Linked DNA regions of Homo sapiens: region 1 is linked to region 2. The links come from fine-mapping of genetic effects on gene expression. A gene starts in region 2. The other region holds a variant in brackets. All regions are shown on one strand. Distances are between the middles of the regions.

The links. PIP is the estimated chance that this variant, and not a neighbour inherited with it, causes the effect.
Region 1: its variant is the best candidate, but not a certain one, in a credible set for the expression of ZBTB40 in lymphoblastoid cells (GTEx, PIP 0.54).

Annotation. Positions count from the first base shown.
Region 1 is chr1:22,481,673-22,486,202 of GRCh38, forward strand. All of the region lies in intron 1 of ZBTB40 (zinc finger and BTB domain containing 40), which reads left to right. Among named protein-coding and RNA genes, the nearest start is that of ZBTB40, 32 kb to the left of the region's middle. The variant T/C (reference allele first, on the strand shown) is at 1,656.
Region 2 is chr1:22,450,019-22,454,018 of GRCh38, forward strand. It overlaps ZBTB40 (zinc finger and BTB domain containing 40), which reads left to right and starts at 1,833. Exons shown (of 18, transcript NM_014870.4): 1 at 1,833-1,986. RefSeq lists silencers at 1,078-1,372, 1,687-1,886, 2,227-2,316 and enhancers at 1,762-2,323, 2,037-2,116.

The DNA.
Region 1 (4,530 bases), 32 kb after region 2:
AATATAATTCCAGTCACTTGTTTCTTACTAATAAGAATGTTTAAAAAGATCTAATGTATGTCCAGGTAAGTCTTTTGGTTTACTGTAATCCGTAAGACTTATGTCTTGTTTTACCAAAAAAAAAAAAAAAAAAAAAAAAAAAATCACATTACATTGGTGTAATTTGTTTCTTAGAAAAACCTCATCAGTGCCTGTTTATGGTCTTTTGTTATTTGCAAATTGAATTCTTGTTCAGATTTTTCTCAAATATTAATTTAAATATTTATTTAAATATTAAAACTAGAAAAAAATGTTTTTCTAGTTTTAAATCTTATGGAATTTTCCCCTCCTCTTTCCATAAAACACCAAGAGATAAAAATTCCAGTCGCCTACTAGAGCTACTTCTATTAGATAAAAGCCACTTACCTCCTAGGACTGTTCTTCATTTGTTTAAAAATATATGTGCATTTTTATAATATAGATTAAAACAGACTGTATTCAAAAAGTAGGGGTAGACATTCTTAAAGATTTTCTTTGAGCAAGCTGAAAACAATCATATGAATTCATGAATGCCCAACAATATTAGGTACATGGTATAGAAGGGGCTTGGGGTAGTTAGAACTGAAACATTTATATTTATTTCAGCAAATCTTTATTTTAATTAATAAACTATTTTTTTAGAGCAGTTTGAGGTACATGCAAAATTAAGCGGAAATTACAGAGGGTTTGCAGATCCCTCCCCACTCCCATTCTCCACACATGCACAACCTGTCCCACCATCCATGTCTCACACCATATTGGTACATTTCTTATAATTGATGAACCTACATTGACACATAATTCTTACCCGGAGTCCATAGTTTACATCAGGGTTCACTGTTGGTGTTGTGCATTCTGTGGGTTTTGACAAATGTATAATGACTTATATTTGCCATTGTAGATTCATGAAGAATAATTTCACTGCCCTAAAAATCCTCTGTGCTTTGCTTATTCATCCCTCCCTCTCCTCTAACCCCTGGCGATCACTGGTCTTTTTTACTATCTATATATTTACCTTTTCCAGAACGTCATATATTTGGAATTATAAAGTATGTAGCATTTTCAGATTGACTTCTTTCACTTAGAAATATGCATTTAAGGCCGGGTGCGGTGGCTCACGCCTGTAATCTGTAATCCCAGCACTTTGGGAGGCCGAGGCAGGTGGATCACGAGGTCAGGAGATCGAGACCATCCTGGCTAACACAGTGAAACCCGGTCTCTACTAAAAATACAAAAAAATTAGCCAGGCGTGGTGGCGGGCGCCTGTAGTCCTAGCTACTCGGGAGGCTGAGGCAGGAGAATGGTGTGAACCCGGGAGGCAGAGCTTGCAGTGAGCCGAGATCACGCCACTGCACTCCAGCCCGGGCGACAGAGCAGGACTCCGTCTCAAAAAAAAAAAAAAAGAAATATGCATTTAAGTTTCCTCCCTGTCTTTTCATGGCTTTATGTCTCATATCTTTTTAGCACTTTTTAGTCCATTGTCTGGATGTACCACAGTTTATTCATTATATCTACTTCTTGGTTGCTTCCAAATTTTGGCAATTATGAATAAAGCTGCTTTATAAGTATCATGTGTAGGCTTTTGTGTGGCCATAAGTCTTCAACCCCTTTGGTTAATTACCAAGGAATGTGATTAC[T/C]AGATCATGTGGCAAGAGTATGTTTGGTTTTGTAAGAAACTGTTAATCTGTAGAATGTCTGTACTATTTTGCATTCCCACCGGCATTGAATGAAAGTTCCTGTTTCTCTACATCCTCGTCAGCATTTAGTATTCCCTGTGTTTTGGATTTTGGTCATTCTGATAGGTGTGTGATGGTATCTTGTTTTAATTTGCAATTCTCTAAAGACATACCATGTACAACATCTTTTCATTTGCTTATTTGTCATCTGCATATCTTCTTTGATGAGGTGTCTGTTCAGGTCTTCTGCTATTTTTTAATTGGGTTGTTTTCTTATTGTTGAGTTTTGAGAGTTCTTTGTGTATTTTGGATAATAGTCTTTTATCAGGTGTGTTTTTTGCAAATATTTTCTCCCAGTCTGTGGCTTGTCTTTTCATTCTTTTGACATTGTCTTTCATGGAGCAAAATTTATTTCTGTCATGGATTGTGCCTTTGGTGTTGTACCTAAAAAGACTGCCATAGCCAAAGTCAACTAAGTTTTCTCCTATGTTAACTTCTAGGAATTATAATTTTGTATTTTACATATAGGTCTCTGATGTATTTTAAGTTAATTTTTGTGAAGGGTGTAAGGTCTATGTCTAGATTCATTTTTTCGTATGTGAATGTCCAGTTGGTTCCAGCATCACTTGTTGAAAAGATACTCTTTGCTTCATTTTAGTGCCTTTGCTCCTTTGTCAAAGATGAATTGACTATATTTGTGTGGGTCTGTTTCTGGGCTTTCTGTTCTGTTCCACTGGTCTACTTGTCTATTCTTTCACCAATACCACATTGTCTTCATTATTGTAGCTTTAAAATAGTAAATGTTGAAGTCATTATCAGTCCTCCAACTTCAGTCTTCTCCTTCAATATTGAGTTAGCTATTTTGGTCATGGGGAAGATCTGAGTCTCTGAAAATATTGAATATTTCTATCTAACAACATGGGATATCTCTCCATTTTTAAAGTTCTTTGATATCTTTCATCAGAGTTTTGTTGTTTTCTTCATATAGATCTTGTACATATTTTGTTAGATTTATACCTAAGTATTTCTCTTTTTGGGGTGCTAGTGTAAATGGTAAAGTTTTTAATTTCAAATTCTACCTTATTGCTGGTATATAGGAAAACAATTGGCTTTTGTATATTAACCTTATGTCTTACAACTTTGTTATAATCTCTTATTAGTTCCAGGAGGTTTTTTGTCATTTCTCTTTAATTTTCTGTAAAGACAATCATGTAGTCTGCAAACAAAGACAGTTTTAACTTCCTTCCCAATCAGTATACCTTCTATTTCCTTTTCTTGTCTTGTTGCATTAGCTAGGACTTCCAGTACAGTGTTTAAGATCAGTGGTGAACTGGGATATCCCAGCCTTGTTTATAATCCCAGCAGGAAGACTTTGAGTTTCTCACCATTATGAGTGATGCCAGCTGTAGGTTTTTTGTAGATGTTCTTTATGAAGTTGAGGCAGTTCCCCTCTATTTCTAGTTTGTTGGAGTTTTTATCATGAATGGGCATTGGATTTCTGCCAGATGCTTTTTCTGCAGCTTTCTGTTGACATGTTCACATGATTTTTCTTCTTTAGCCTGTTGATGCGATGGATCACATTAATTGATTTTGAATGTTGAACCAGCCTTGCATACCTGTGAGAAGTCCCATTTGGCTATGATGTATAATTCTCTTTAGGCATTGTTAGAGTCAAGTTGCTAATATTTTGTTGAGGATTTTTGCATCTATCTTAACGAGAGATACTGGTCTGTGGTTTTCTTTTCTTGTAATGTCTCTGTGTGGTTTTGGTAGAGGGTTAATGTTGGCCTCAAAGAATGAGTTGGGAAATATTCCCTCTGCTTCTATCTTCTGGAAGAGTTTGTAGAGAATTGGTATAATTTCTTTCTTAAATATTGGGTGGAACTCATTAGTGAACACATCTGGGGCTGTTGCTTCCACTTTGGGGAGGTTATTGTTGATTCACCTACTTTAATAGATATAGGCCTATTCAGATAGTCTATTGCTGCGTGTGTGAGTTTTGACAGATTGCATCGTTCAAGGAATTGGATCATTTTATTTAGGTTATATTTGTGGACATTCATAAATTACCTTATATTTTTAATGTATATGGGGTATACAGTGATACTGATATTAATAAATTGTATTGTCTATTTTTTTTTCTTTGTTACCATGGCCATCTTTGATTTTCTGACATTTGAAAACTATATGCCTAGGCTCAATGTCTTGAGTTTCCTGGATCTGTGATGTGGTGTCTGTCATTAATTTGGGGAAATTCTCAGTCATTATTGCATCAAATATTGCTGCTTTTCTCTCTTCCCCTTCTGGTGTCCCCATTTTGCATTAGTTATTTCTTTTCTAGTCTTCCCACTGTTAGATATTCTGTTCTGTTTTCTTCTTCTTTTTTTACTTTGCTTTTTCGTTTTGGATTGTTACGTCTTCAAGCTAGGAGATTCTTTCCTCAGTCGTGTCCAGTCTACTAATGAGCTCATCAAAGGCAGTCTTCATTTCTGTTATGGTGTTTTTTATCTCTAGCATTTCTTTTTGATTCTTTCTTAGAATTTCCATTTCTCTGCTTACATTATCCATCTATTCTTACATGTTTTGTACTTTTTCCATTAAAGCCCCTGGCTATTTAATCATAGTCTTAAAAAAAAAAAATCCTGGTGTGCTAATTCGGACATTCTTGCTATATCTGAGTCTGGTTTTGAAGTTTGCTCTGTCTCTCCAAACTGTTTTTGGGTTTTGTCTGTTTGTTTGTCTTTTAGTATGCCTTGTAATTTTTTGTTGAAAGGTGGACATGATGTACTGCATAAAAGGAACTGCTATAGCTAGGCCTTTAGTGATGTGGTAGTAG
Region 2 (4,000 bases):
CTCCAACCTCCGCCTCCCAGGTTCAAGCGATTCTCCTGCCTCAGCATCCTGAGTAACTGGGATTACAGGCACCTGCCACCATGCCCAGGTAATTTTTCTATTTTTAGTAGAGACGGGGGTTTCACCATGTTGGCCAGGCTGGTCTCGAACTCCTGACCTCAGGTGATCCGCCTGCCTCGGCCTCCCAAAATGCTCCCAAAATGCCCAGTGGCTCACACCTGTAATCCCATTAACTCGATAAATATTTCTAGAGCACCTACTATGTGCCAAGCACCCTTCTAGGTGTTTGTTTGCTAAATCTAGCAACCCTATGTTCCCACTAAAAGAGAATGTGAGGCTGGTGGAAATGAGGGCTTAGGAGACACAACAGCTGTAGGCGTGGTTCCAGTTACTACAAAAGTGACTAAATAACAGCTACAGTAAATCCGACCCTGAATGTAACGGTGACATGAGTATAATAGTGAAAGTGACTAACTGGGCACAAGGGTATGAGGACAACAGTGTACCCTGAAGGGGCCTGTTAAATACTGGCTTGACTGTGTGGCAGCAAAAGTGGCTGCATGACAATGACAGTGAAAACAACAGAAAGGGCAACAGCTGGGCAAACAAAGTGCTATTTTGAACAGAACCGTTTGAAGTTTATGGTCAATGACGGTAGCTGCATGTCAGACAGTGACAGTAAATATGATCGACCGGGAGACAGCAACAATGCAAGTGACAGTTCTGCCCAGTAGATTGAATTTGTGATGTAAAACGGTGATGGGGTGAGTCAGTCAGCCAGAGACAGCTCTCAGAACGACTGAATATTGACATTGCAGATGGAAAAGGTATAACCACAGAGGAAGCTGGACATTGCACTAAGATGGCTGGATTTGGGCACGTAACTGTCAGGGACAGAAAAAGTGGCTGCATGTCAGTGACAGGGTGACTGTGTTCAGTGGGCCAGCGCGGAGGTGACTCAGTTTGTTACTGCTGGATCTGATTTAAATGTTTGTGTAAGGAAGGGTGGCAAGGGGACGCTTCAACAGGGAACGCATAGTGTGTGAGAAGGAAAATGAGCAAAAGAAAAGCTAGGACTAAATCCCAAAGCCCCTAAATCCCAAAATTGGGAGGTGCGAGAGGCAGGATCAGGATGCCTCCAGGATGCCTTCAGCCCACTGCGCCCCACCAGCGCCAAGCCTGTCCCACAAAGAGTGCGGGCTGGGGACGCGGCTCAGGTCGCCTCTCCGCCTCGCACGTGAATGTGTTGTTTTGGAAAAACGAAGCCTTTTGTGTTCACTTCCTTGCCCTCCTTTGAAACAAAATCCTAATCCTAGAGCTGCCGGAGCGAGACTGCGGAGCTCCATTAGAACTTTCCTTAGGGCCGGGCATGGTGGGAGGCCGAGGCAGGTGGATCATCTGGGCTCAGGAGTTCGGGACCAGCCTGGCCAACATGGTGACATCCTGTCTCTACTAAAAATAGAAGAGAAAAAAAAAATTAGCAGGGCGTGGTGGCGCGCGCCTGTAATCCCAGCTACTCGGGAGGCTGAGGCAGGAGAATCGCTTGAACCTGGAAGGCGGAGGCTGCAGTGGGGCGAGATCGCGCCGCTACACTCCAGCCTGGGAAACAAGAGCGAATCTCCCATCTCAAAAAAAAAAAAAAGAAAAAAACTTTACTTAGGAAGTGTGGGGAGGGAAGGAGGGAGTGGCCAAGGTCAGAGGTCAGAGAAGAGCCTAGCAACCAGCCGGCCCCCGCCGTCCTAGCATAGGTGGAGAGCGAGCGCGTGACGCAGGCCCCGCCCCCAGCACGTGACCGCGGCGCGTGGGGCAGGTCGGGCCGCCCCCTCCCCTCTGATACCCATTGCGCGCCGGCCTCAAGATGGCCGCCTTCTGGCGTCTCCGGCGCTGTTGAATGGCGAAAGCTTTATTGTTCCCTTCGGGCAGGAGTGTTCGTGTCCTCTATGGCGCTGTCAATAAAGAACGGCAGTTTGAATCGGTGCTGAACAGGTAACCATAGAAACGGGGCTGGGACTCCGCGTGGAGACCCTTCCTGCAGCGGGGGCCCGGGTGCGCCCTAAATGAGGGGTGTATACAGACCCTTCCGCGTGGCGAACTCCGCGGGACTCGGCCGAATCACGGCCGCCTCACCTACACCCCGGACGTGCCCCCTCCAGGGGCGGTCCGCACCCCTGGCGCCGGCTCTGCTGTAGACTGCGGAGGGGAGAGACCGCGGGGACCCACTCAGGGCGCCAGGCCCGACCTGACACCGCCTGGGGCTCGCTGTCGCCCCGCACCTCCCTCTCGGCCCGTCCGGAGGCCTCTTGTCGCTGTCTCACTCCCCCTCCCTTCAGGTCCCTTCGCCGGGCGTCAGCGGACTATGGCCTTGGGCCTAATCCATGCCCCCCTTCTCTCTTCCCCTCTCGGTCTTTGTTTACAGTTGCAAATGGTTAGGGGGAAGAATATTTCATGTAATTTGCGAAAGTTCTATGAAATCAAGTCCATAAATGAAGTTTTATTGGAACACGGCCCTGTTCATTGTTGATGTATTGTCTATGGCTGCTTTCCTGCCAAGAGGGCAGAGCTGAGTAGTTGCGCAGCCGTTGCTTGGCTTTGATCGGCTGGCTCACAAAGCCAGAAATATTTCTGTCTGGTCCCTTACAGCAAAAGTTTACTGACCCCTGCCCTAAACACAAGGAGATTGGATCAGTGTTGTCATTCAGCTATTCCTCTCGTCGGTTCTTCTGGAGTGGGAAAAGAGTTAAAACTGCGCGATGCACCGAGAGCACTTTAGTTGACAGAACACTCTGGCTTCCCTTCTGGTCTTACTGACTATTCAGAGTTTCTCCTGCTTTGAATAGCGTTGGTACCATGCAGCCAGTGCTGCAATGAACCAGGTGCTTTATTTATATTCATACAAGTGTTGTTCTACTTTATGACGACGCTTTATAAGTAAGTATGGTATTTCCATTTTACAAACGAGGAAGAAATTTGTTCTGAGTGGTTAATATATGTATAGGTGTACTAGGTTATAGGGCTGCCAAATTGAGCCTGTCCCTGGGAGCCCCCTGCCTGATGGCACCGGTCAAACTGCTTTGGATTTTATTCTTTCAAGTCTTTTCTACCTGGAATTGTTTGTTCTTCCCTGGAATTGTACCCAGATCTTTGTATGGTTAATGGAGATTTAATTACAATCTCAGTGAAATTTTTTTCTACTTAGCTAAATCATCAAACTTCTGCCCCTCCTTTCTAATATAAACACTTTTCTTCTATGTCAGTAGTCCCCAAACTTAGCTATTCATTAGTGGTTTAACAAATGGTTTCAGAACACCCCATGCATGTACGCATGCATTCATTAATCATTTAGTGTTTGTTGAGCACTTACTGTGTACCAGAGACGTTTCAAATTCCTGGAAATACAGTGGTGAACAAGACAAATATGATTTCTGCCCTTCCATGGAATTTAAATTCTATGTGGGGCTTGGACAAGTGGTATACAGGTAGACAAAGATAATTTCAAATACAGCTGTAATAGCATCATCATAATAAAATTATTAGTTGCTATTTACTGAGTGATTATTTTGTGCCAGGTACTGTGCTAAGTGCTTTATTTATATGGACTATCACTTAATCCTCACACCAATACTATGACATAAGTAGTATTAATATTACCATTTTACGCATAGAGGAAACAAACTCACGTCGGAGAGATGTTCGAGGTTACATAGCTAAGGCATTCAGCTGAGAGCTGAAGCTAATCTGATCACACTGAACACCCTGTATTGTTCCATCTGTTTATTGTCTTTCCTACTAGCTTAGGAGGTCCTTAAGGGCAGGGACCACACCTTACTGTTGTTATCCTCAGCTGCTAGCCAGTACCCACAACCTGGTGTTTGCAGGTAAATACCAAGTAAACAAATCTAGGTCATTCATTGAACAAATTTTTATTTTATTTTATTTTATTTATTTTTTTGAGACAGAGTCTCGCTGTGTTGCCCAGGCTGGAGTGCAGTGGCACAATCTC